2 separate regions of the Homo sapiens genome follow, and region 1 is linked to region 2. The links come from fine-mapping of genetic effects on gene expression. A gene starts in region 2. The other region holds a variant in brackets. All regions are shown on one strand. Distances are from middle to middle.

Region 1 (5,372 bases), 76 kb after region 2:
ACAGCCTAGAAGGCAGTGAGATGATATATTAAAAGTGCTGAGAATGAAACTGTCATCCAAGAATACTATAACCAGCAAAACCTGTTCTTCAGAAATGAAGGCATGATAAAGACTTTCCCAGACAAACAAAATCTGAAGGAATTCTTCACCAATAGATGTGCCTTACAGAAAATGTTAAAGGGAATTCTTCAAGTTGAAGAGGAAGAATGCTTAACATCTATTAAAAAGCATATGAAACTATATAACTTCATGGTAAAGGTAAATATATATACAGATTGAAAATACCATGACATGTAATATGATAGGTAAATAAGTTTTAGTTTGTTTAGAGGTTAAAAAGGCAAAAACAGTAAAAATAACTATAACTATAAAATATGTTAATGAATAAACAATTTTAAAAGATATAAATTGTAATATCAAGAACAAAGTGTGGGGAGAAGAAAAGTAACAGTGTAGAGTTTCTGTATGGAGTTGATACTAGCCTGAAATAGACTATTATAACCATAAGATGTTTTCTGTAAGCCCCATGTAACCACAAAGAAAACACCTATAAAATATGCACAAAAGAAAGTAAAAAGTAAATTTAAAAAAGTAAGTAAAAAAGAATCAAAGCATATCAATACAAAAAAAAAATCAACAAAGGAAAACAGCAAGAAAGGAAAAGAACACAAGAACCAAAAGACAGAAAACTAGAAAATGGCAATAGTAAGTTCTTCCCTATGAACAATCACTTTAAAGGTAAATGAATTAAATTCTCCAATTATAAATGGCTGCATGGATAAAAATAAAATTAATAAAATATAGGAACTTATTATATGCTGTTTACAGGAGACTGACTTTAGATTTAAGAACATATACAAACTGAAAGTGAAGAGATGGAAAAACATTCCATGCAAATTGTAACCAAAAGAGAGTAGCATGCCTATGCTTATGCTAGACAAAATAGACTTTGAGACAAAGCTGTCACAAAAGGTCATTATATAATGATAAAATAATTATTAAGGAAAATGTAACAATTTTAAATATGTATTCATCCAACATTAGAAGTATCTAAATATATGAAGCAAACATTGACAGAACTAAGGGAAAAACAGCAATAGTAGGATACTTTAATACCTAACATTTAACAATGAATAGAAGTTCCATATGGAAAATCAATGAAGAAACAGAGGACATAAACAATACTGTAGACCAAATGAATCCAAGAGACATATATGGAATATTCCACCAAACAGCAGAAGAATACACATTTTTTTCAAGTGCTGAATTAATTACATGTTAGGTCACACAGCAAATCTTAACAAATTTAAGAAGACTGATCTCATACTAAGTATTTTTTTCTGACCACAATGAAATGAAACTAGAAATCAATAACTAAAGAAAACTGGAAAATTCACAAATATGTAAATTAAACAAGACACTCCTGAACAGCCAGTGAATCAAATAAAAAATCAGAAGGGAAATTTGAGAATATCTTGAGAAAACTGGAAATGGAAACACAACATACCAAGTCCTTTGGACTGTAACAAAATCAGGAAAAGGAAATTATGCAGCAATAAGCACCTACATTGAAATAAGAAAGAACTCAAATAAACAGCATAGCTTTGTACCTCAAGAAAGTAGAAAAAGAACAATCTAAGCCCAAAGTTAGAAAAAAGAAAGAAAGAAAGATTAAAGCAGAAATGAACACAATAGAAAACAGAAAACCAATTAAAAAAAATAAAACTAAGAGTAGGATTTTGAAAAAGATCAACAAAATTGACAAACCCATAGCTAGAATTGAAAAAAAAAAAAAGAGAGAGAGAGAAGACTTAAATTAAAAAAATCAGAAATGAAAGAGGAAACATTTTACCTGATGCCATGGAAATAGGATCAAAAGAGGCTACTATGAACACTTATACACGAACGAATTGTATAACCTAGAATAAACAGATAAATTACTAGAAACATACAACCTACTAAGATTGGATTATGAAGAAATTAAAAACCTGAACAGATCTATAATTAGTAAGGAAATTGAATAAGATGGCTTCACTGGTGAGTTACACCAAACACTTTTAAATAAATAGATGACTTAGGATTATGCAATTCTTTT[T/C]ATAATTTTTGACCCTTTTTTTGTAACTTTTAAGTTCAGGGATACAAACCTTGTACAAACAAGGTTTGTTACATAACGTAAACTTGCGTCATTGTGGTTTGTTGTAGAGATGATTTCATCACCCACATATTAAGCCTAGTACCCCATTTGTTATTTTTCCTGATCCTTTTCCTCCTCCCATCCTCCACCCTCCAAAGGGCACCAGTGTATGTTGTTCCCCTCTAAGTGTCTATTTTCTCCTCATTTAGATCCCACTTATGAGCACATGTGGTGGTATCCCAAGAGAAATCTAACCGATTTTGTAGTGTGACTATTTCAGATTCTGTTCTGATTTTTATCACTTAAATTCCTAGGAATGAGAAGACATGATAATAAAAAATATTATTCAATTATTAAAAAATTAATGCCAATCCTTCTTAAACTCTTCCAAAAACTTCAAGAGGAGGGGAAGCTTTTAAACTTATTTTATGAGGCCAGTATTACCCTAATACCAAAGTCAAAGACTCTTCAAACAAAATGTGGTATATATATACAATGGAATGTTATTCAGCCTCAAAAAAGAAAGAAATCCTGCCAAATGTGACAACATGATGAATCTTGAGGACACCGTGCTACATGAAATAAGTCAGTCACAAAAGAACAAATATTTATATGAATTTCCAAAAATAGTCATAGGGGCAAAGAGTAGAAGGGTGGTCTCCAGAGTTTGGGGAAAGTGGAAAATGGGGAGTTGCTGGGCAGTGAGTATAAAGTTTTAGTCATGCAAGGTGAATGAGTAAGTTCTAGAAATCTGTTGTGCAATATCATGACTGTATTGAACAATATTGCATTGTACACTTAAAAATTTGTCAAGAAGATAGATATGTTAAATGTTCTTACCACAATTTTTTAAATTACTGGAGAAATTATAGGGTTTTTTTTAAAGAAAACATCCTACTTGTTAAATTAAGTGTTTCTTTGGATGTTAGTTGAGTTTGGTGTCTTTCTTTCATATTGCTTTCTTCAAATATTTGATGTATTCATTTTCTGTTGCTGTGTAACAAACTACCACAAATTTAGTAACTTAAAACAAAACGCATTTACTAGCTCACAATTGTGTAGGTCAGAGGTCTGGGGGAACATGACAGGGTTCTCTGCTAAGGACGTCACGTGGCCAAAATAAAGATGACGGCTGGATTGGACTCTTGCCTGAAGACTGTGGGAAATAAGGTACTTCCAAGAGCATTCAAATTTCAGCAGAATACTGTTTCTTGCATTTGTGCTTTTGAGATGTCTGTTTCTTTGCTGTCTGGTGGCAAGGGGCCACTCTCATCTCCTAGGACTGACCACACTCCTGCTAACGTTGCTTCCTCCTTCAAAGCCAGCAAAAAATGTGTTGAATTTTTCTCAAGTTTGGAAACTTTCTGTTCTGCAACCAGCCAGCGAAAATTTTGCTTTTAAACGGCTCAGCTGATTGAGTCAGGCCCACTGGATAATCTCTGTATTATAGGATCAACTGACATGTAGCTTTAATTACAGCTGCAAAATTTCCTCATAGCAGTACCTAGATCAGTGCTCAATTGAAAAATAAGAAATGGGAATCTTGGGAGACCATCTTTAGAATTCAGTAATTACATGTGGTGTTCCTGGGCTGAATTGAGAATTATTATTGCTATCAGAAGAGTCAGGTTCAGATTATAGGCTTTCACCACTAGGAATTGTCGGACAGGGATGGAACCAGCAGCTAAACAGGTAGCCCTGCCATATATTTGACATAGAAACTTCTGTTTTTAAAAAGTTATGATTACTATATGCCATTTATTAAGCATTTCCTCATTCATGTGCAAGATCTTCATTATTTTTCTTCCTTTTTCTTTTCTTTAGTTTTTCTCTTTTTATTTCTTCCTTTCTATTTCTTTCTTTTTTCCCCTTGTTCAAATTATACTGATGATGACATGTAAATCATTAACCATTCTACAGGAAATAAACCATAGCCCTTACTTATTTAAAGTGACTTTATCAATTATTTCAGATGAGAAGGAAACTGAGTTCCAAGAAGGGAGAATGACTGGTTTGAAGTTCCAAGGCTGTTTGGTGGATGAGCCAAAATGGGAGCCCCAGAGTCTTTGTCCAGTGCTTGCCTTCCCCCCAGACCATGAGAAGCCACTCCACTGAACTTTTTGAAATGTCATCATGCTGCCTGAGAAACTAAAATTTTGGTGGCTCGCAATGATGTCGTTACTCAAAGTGGTGCAGGCATTTCTCCTACAGAGTGACTTTTCACGATCTGAATTAGACACAATGCAGTATATTAATTTGGAGACTTATTTTGCATTACGTAATCTGCTATTGATTAAAATGAACCATTGAGCAGTTTAGTCATGAAGAAAAATGCTGCTTCACATGCAGCACAGTTGTTTCGTTTGGGTGTCCCTGAACTTTCCAAGACCATAGCAAACTCTTTCCTCCTCAAGGACTTTGCATTAGCTGTTCCCTCTGCTTGGAATGCTCTTCCCCCAGGTCTTCTCTGTCTTCAGATCTCAGATTTCATGAGGCCTTTCCTGTCCATGCATTCTGAAGCGAGCCCTTCCTGTTAACTTCCCTCTCGGTGTCTTACCTAGTTCCTTTATCACATATCAAAATCTATAATTATTGTATTGATTTGGTTGCTTACATGTATCATGTCTGTCACTCCCACTAGATTGGAAGATGGGAAGATTCTTGAAGTCAGAATTCTTACCCTTCTTAGTCACTATGACAGCCCCAACATTTAGAACAATGCCTCATGCAGAGCAGAAATTTTTGATAGACAATTGCTAAGTAGATAAAAACAGATGGTAAGAATGTATAACAACAGCTAGTAGTGACAGAAAAAGGAAAGAGATTGTTTTTGAGAGAAAAGCTAGGTGGAATCAAATGCCATATTTGTTCAGTTATGTTTCATTTTTATAGCTATATGTTTTTAGTTAAAAAATACTCATTAATAAAATTCCTACAGGGGAAAAACAACTTTGTTATTGGAAGTCTGAAAAACTTCAGTACCTTATTTCTTCTTCCCATCGAAGTAATTACTCCTATAATGCACTTTTTTGGGGTTTTTTTATGTTTTCTTAGAGACAGTGTCTAACTCACTCTGTGTCACCCAGGCTAAAGTGCCGATCTCGGCTCACTGCAACCTCTGCCTCCCAGGCTCAAGTGATTCTCCTGCCTCAGCCTCCCAAGTAGCTGGGATTACAGACATGCACCACCACGCTTAGCTAATTTTTGTATTTTTAGTAGAGACAGTGTTTCACCATGT
Region 2 (5,372 bases):
TTAATGATCATGAGTCAAAATATTTTCATGTAAAAAACCAAAAAAATCATTGAATGGACTCATAAGATCTTGGCATGGAAACTGCTAGAGGACCATAGTCCCTCCTCAGTATTTGCTGCTCCTTCTCCCTACCCCACTCCACTCTCCACCCTAGGAAACCTTTTCATTTGAATATTTTCAATAAGGGCAAGATCACCAGCTTACAAGATGTCAGAAAGTAACTTTCTGCTCTAAAAAAATGGGGCCCTCACAAAAGTAGTGAGTAGAGGCCCTGGCAGGATTTGGAATTTGGTGTATTTAATATGAAGTTTGACATTATTATGTAATAACAAACTTGATGGCTTTTCCCCGTTTCAGAGAGCTCTAAATCCTCTAAGACAAAACTAGTACCAGAGCACTAAGAAATCTTGTTTTTGTTCAAAACTCTAGCCCAGAAAGGCACCAGTTAGCTTTTAAAAGTATGTGCTCTCTCCTCTTTACTAACTGCGGTGTTAGTGGATAATTGAGCTAAGGTTTATACCTGTATTTTCCCCCTATTTCAAGATTTGTTGTTGGATCTGCAAATGATTCCAATCAAATACAACTGTACTTGGAAAAAAATCATCCGTTGTTAAGACTTTACATTCCTTAGTTGCAGAAGTAGTTTTTTTTCCTGCACAATACCTTTTAAAAAATGAATATTTAATATGTCAATATATACTCTGAAAATAACCATTTATATTTTAAATTCTGAGCTCAGGTTATTTTCTAGACATTGTAATTTAGAATAAAAATACTTCTCCAGTTCTACATTTTGCCTGACTGTTAAAAATGATTTTGAGATTAATAAGTTGAACCAATTTTCTATTCACCTGACCAAATTCTGAACCATTTGAGTTTTTTAAAAAGTACTTTTTCCTTATTGTAAAGGCAACATAAAACTTGGTTCATTGGACAGGATAGCAGAGATAAACATTATACATGAAGTATAGTTCCCTGGGGCAATGTTGCTCTCTTTCTACCATGTTTATTTCGATTTATATAAATTTGAGACACTGAACAGAAGTAGAATTCAAATAGAGAATGAGGACTTATAAAAATGTACACTCTGCCTACATCAGTAAGAGTATGCTAATTTATAAAATTAAATATTTAATCTTAGTTCACTTGTAAACCAAAATCAAGTAAAGTCTGAATCCACCTTCTATTGCTTTGGGGGTTTGAGTCTATATTCTAGGATTCATTTAATAGTTTCATTTCTCTAAGCATCAAGCAAAACAGTTAAAATTACAAAACAGAAACATAAAGTTCACCTCATCATGTAGTATGGATCACTCTGTTATTCTTTATCTAGACCTTCAAATACTTTATGTAAAATGTTTCTATACAAAAGGAAACACAGGATTAGTTCCTCCTCTAATGCTTCTAAAGAGCTCTACCATGGAAAGCTCTCTCCCTTCCATTTTGCAAGTCTCAACAAGTCTGCTGCTGAGTCAGAACCTCCTTTTTTCCCTGATGTAAGAACTATTTCTCCCTTGAAAATTCATAAAGCTTAGGAATAAATTAGAGTCTCCCTGGGGGGAAGGGGCGGGGACGCCGGAATGAATGTGGTGGGGAGGAGTCCCACGCTGCAGCCCTGATGGCACACGAAAGGCTTTTATGAAGCGGAGCTGGCCCGGGGTTACTATGGGAGCTCGCCGTGGAACCCGTTCCACGCATCCGAGTGTGTAAATAACCACGCGGAGCGTGTTTGTTCCAGGGACTTTGTTCCTTCTTACCCAAGTGAAAATGCCTGGAATATAGCCGAGGCTTCATGTTTACCCTACAGAAACACCCTCGGCGGCTCTACGACGTCGGTGACAGCACTCCTACCAGCGCCTAAAAACAGAAACAAGCTTAGAGGGCGCTACCTAGGGCTACAAGGAGGCCCTAGATCGGGGACTCGGGGTCTAGAGGTGCGCGGCGAGGCGCTCAGCGGACTTCAAGCCGGCAGAGCCCAGACGCTAGTTCACCACAGGACCCCCGGGCTGGGCCGGGCTCCCGCGTTGCGCTGGGGGCCCCTCGGGCGCCTATTTCTACGCGGGTCGCACAGTGCAGGCGCCGGTCGGGGTCCCGGGCCTCAGTTTCCCCCGCGGGCCAGCCCCGCTCTGGGAAGCCCGAGTGGTGCAGCAGGGCTTCTCCCCACCCAGGGCGGAACCGAGGTGACAGGAAGGAGGAGGCACCGCGAGGGGCGGAGACGCGTGCGACCCAGGCAGACTCTGCGCGGATCCCGCGCCAAGGAGGGGCCGTTGCCCAGGAACCGTCCCTCCCTCCCGCGCGTGCTTGCCCTCGTGCGCGCGCCCGCCCAATGCTCCCGACCACTGTTTGCCAGCCGACCCCCACCCCAACCGGCCTGTCCATTTCCCCGGGAGCGGAGAGACCCAACGGGACACGCCGCTCGCTCCCGCCCTCCCGGGAGCGCGAGCGCGCCCTCGGCTGCGTCTGCATAGTAATGAGGGGCGGGGAGGGGCGACGGGGACGCGGTGGCCTCGCGCCCGCGCGTGCCGGGACGCACCGCGGGGGGCGGCGCGATTGTGAGGTGGCGCTGACGCACGTTCCGGGGTTCTTAAGCGGCCAGGGCGGCTACGGCGACTGCGACGGCGGCGGCGGCGGCGATCGCCGCGAGGGGTGGTGGGGCCGAAGTCGGTGCCCCCTGGCTCAGTCACGGTGTCCCTCTCTCACTGACTCCCCCTCCTTCCACCACGGCCGCGCAACCCCAGCGCCGGCGGCTTCCTAGGTGGGGCAGGGGACGAGGAGCGTCTCCTCCCGCTGCCGGCGGCCTGATAAATGAGGGATTTCGGGTTTGGGGTGCTGCAGACCGCCCCGCTCCGAAGTAGCAGTCCTGGGCCCCTGTTCTGCGGCGAGGCGTATGGTCCTTACGCCGTGGGGTCCGTCAACCCGCTGCCCTCCGCCACGCCCTTCGGCCCACTGTCGCCACCACCGTTGCCTGTCACCGGCTTCTTAGAGGCCGCCTCCCCCTTCTCCGTCCCCCTCGGCGGCGGCGCGGGCAGCCCGGCCGCCGCCGCTTCCTCTTCCTCCCCGTTCCTGGCGCATCAGCAGACCATGCAGGATGAGCTGCTTCTGGGGCTGACACAGCAGCCGGCGCGGCCGCTTTCGGGGGCGGCGGCCACGGAGAAACTCCCCGACCACCACCCCGGCGGCGGCACGATCGCGGGTGTGACCCACCTCCTCCCCTCCCAGGACTTCAAACCGAGTCTGCACCACCCCTCCTCCTCCTCCGCCTCCTCCTGCTGCTGCTGCCGCACCTCCTCCCCGCAGGACTTCAGTAAGCGGCAGCAGCAGCAGCTGAGCAGCCAGAAGAGGAAAGAGTTCAGCCCTCCCCACCTTCCCCACCCTCCGGACTCGAAGCCGCCGCCGCCGCCTCCGCCGCTCCACTGCCCCGGTCGGTTCAGCCCGCCGCCGCCGCCAGCCGGCCCGCTCCTCCAGCCGGCGCAGCTCGCTCAGCGCCAGCAGCAACAGCCGCCGCAGCAGTTCAGCCTCCTGCATCAGCAGCACCTCTCGCCGCAGGACTTCGCCCCGCGGCAGCGTCCGGCAGACCTGCCCCCGCTCCCGCAGCTCCCTCCCTCGCCGCCTGCAGCCCCGCGGCGCCGCCACGGAGGCGCGGGCAGCCCTCGCAAGACCCCAGCCGCGGGCGAGGGCAGCGCCGCCGAGTCCCCCAATGCGGGCTTGGCCTCCTCGACGCCGGTGAACCCCGCGCCGGGCTCCATGGAGTCCCCCAACCACCCTCTGCTCAACAGTCCCAGTAACCTCCTGCCCGGAGGTGCGCTTGGCGCGGGCGCCTTCAGCAGCCTGCAGAGCCCGGACCTTCCACACCCGGGCGGCGGCGGCGGCGGCGGGGGCGGGGGGCCCCCAGGAGGCGGAGGGGGAGGCGGCTCCGCGTCGCCGCCGCCGCTGCCCGGCTTCGGCACCCCCTGGTCGGTGCAGACCGCGTCGCCGCCACCCCAGCCCCAGCAGCCGCCGCCGACCCAGCCGCAGCAGCAGCCGCCGCCACCCCAGCAGCCGCCCCAGCCGCAGCCGCAGCCGCCCGGCTCGTCTGCCACCACCCCGGGCGGCGGCAGCGGCGGCTCGCTCAGCGCCATGCCGCCGCCCAGCCCCGACTCAGAGAACGGCTTCTACCCCGGGCTGCCGTCGTCCATGAACCCGGCCTTCTTCCCTAGCTTCTCGCCCGTGTCGCCGCACGGCTGCACTGGGCTCAGCGTTCCGACGAGCGGCGGCGGCGGCGGCGGCTTCGGCGGCCCCTTCTCGGCTACCGCTGTGCCCCCTCCGCCGCCGCCCGCCATGAATATACCTCAACAGCAGCCCCCGCCGCCCGCGGCGCCGCAGCAGCCGCAGAGCCGGAGGTCGCCCGTCAGCCCGCAGCTCCAGCAGCAGCACCAGGCGGCGGCCGCCGCCTTCCTGCAGCAGAGGAACTCCTATAACCACCACCAGGTACGGCGGGCGGCGGCCTGGCCGCGCCGCGGGACCGGGAGACCATGGGCGGGGGACGGAGGCGGGGGCAGGGCAGCCGGGGACCCGACCTTAGCCCCGAGAGAAGCCGCGACGGGGGCCACTCGCCCAAGTGAGAGTGGAACTGAGGGCGGACAACCGTGACAGGACTCGGAACCCCAGCCCCCGGTGGGTTGGGAGGGCAGTGGCCACCGTGGGCTGTGGGGGCGTGGGAGACGAGTTCGCGCTGGGAGCCGCGGCTGGCCGGGCGCCCCCTCGAACGTCCCGGCGCAGCAGTGGGGACTGGGGCAGGGGCCGAATAGCGCCGGGGCCGCGGGCGGCCGGGCGCGGCGTCTCAACCCGGCCCTCCTAGCTGGCGCACCCCGGGATCCGCCCTGTGCCCTGGGCCTGGAGGGCCGCCGCCCCGGACCCCCGACGCGGGGAGGCGCGGCGAGGACCGGGGGCTGGCCGGGGGCCTCGGAAGAGCGGCCGTGGGAAGTGAACTTGGGCAGGGGAAAAATGATTGCTGGAGAAGGTGCGTGCGGAGGAGCCCAAGACTCTGTCTCGCTGTCCAATGAGGGAAGGCGGAAAGGCTTTTTTTTTTCTTTGGAGTTTGTTTATTCTTATTTGGCCGGCGGTGATCTCGCCTTGAAGCCTCAGCCCCTCGGGCGGTCAGTCGAGCCGCTCCCAAAGCTCCGCCCGATCAACCTGCTGGCAGCGCCGCACCCTGGGCCGCCGGCCCAGGAGGGAGTCGGGAGGGAGCGGCCGACCGCCCTCCTCGCAGGACCTGGTTCCCGCGGGGCCGCCTCCTTGGCTGTCACAGGACTGGGAAAGAGAAACTGTTAGTGACCGCTCGGGTTCAAACCGAGATATCCCACGAATGTCTTAGTTTCTGTGCTTTTCAATGT

What was found.
Region 1: its variant is fine-mapped to the expression of CPEB2 in whole blood (TOPMed, PIP above 0.99).

What each region holds. Positions count from the first base shown.
Region 1 is chr4:15,076,003-15,081,374 of GRCh38, forward strand. All of the region lies in intron 2 of C1QTNF7-AS1 (C1QTNF7 antisense RNA 1), which reads right to left. Among named protein-coding and RNA genes, the nearest start is that of CPEB2, 76 kb to the left of the region's middle. The variant T/C (reference allele first, on the strand shown) is at 2,096.
Region 2 is chr4:14,999,869-15,005,240 of GRCh38, forward strand. It overlaps CPEB2 (cytoplasmic polyadenylation element binding protein 2), which reads left to right and starts at 2,613. Exons shown (of 12, transcript NM_001177382.2): 1 at 2,613-4,467. The coding sequence starts at 2,806. CPEB2-DT (CPEB2 divergent transcript) reads right to left here and starts at 2,177. Exons shown (of 8, transcript NR_038857.1): 1 at 2,070-2,177; 2 at 1,758-1,857; 3 at 1,293-1,361. C1QTNF7-AS1 (C1QTNF7 antisense RNA 1) reads right to left here. Exons shown (of 6, transcript NR_125911.1): 6 at 5,074-5,289. RefSeq lists enhancers at 1,602-1,651, 4,493-5,059 and silencers at 1,892-2,751, 3,252-3,561, 3,612-3,761, 3,862-4,071, 4,452-5,051.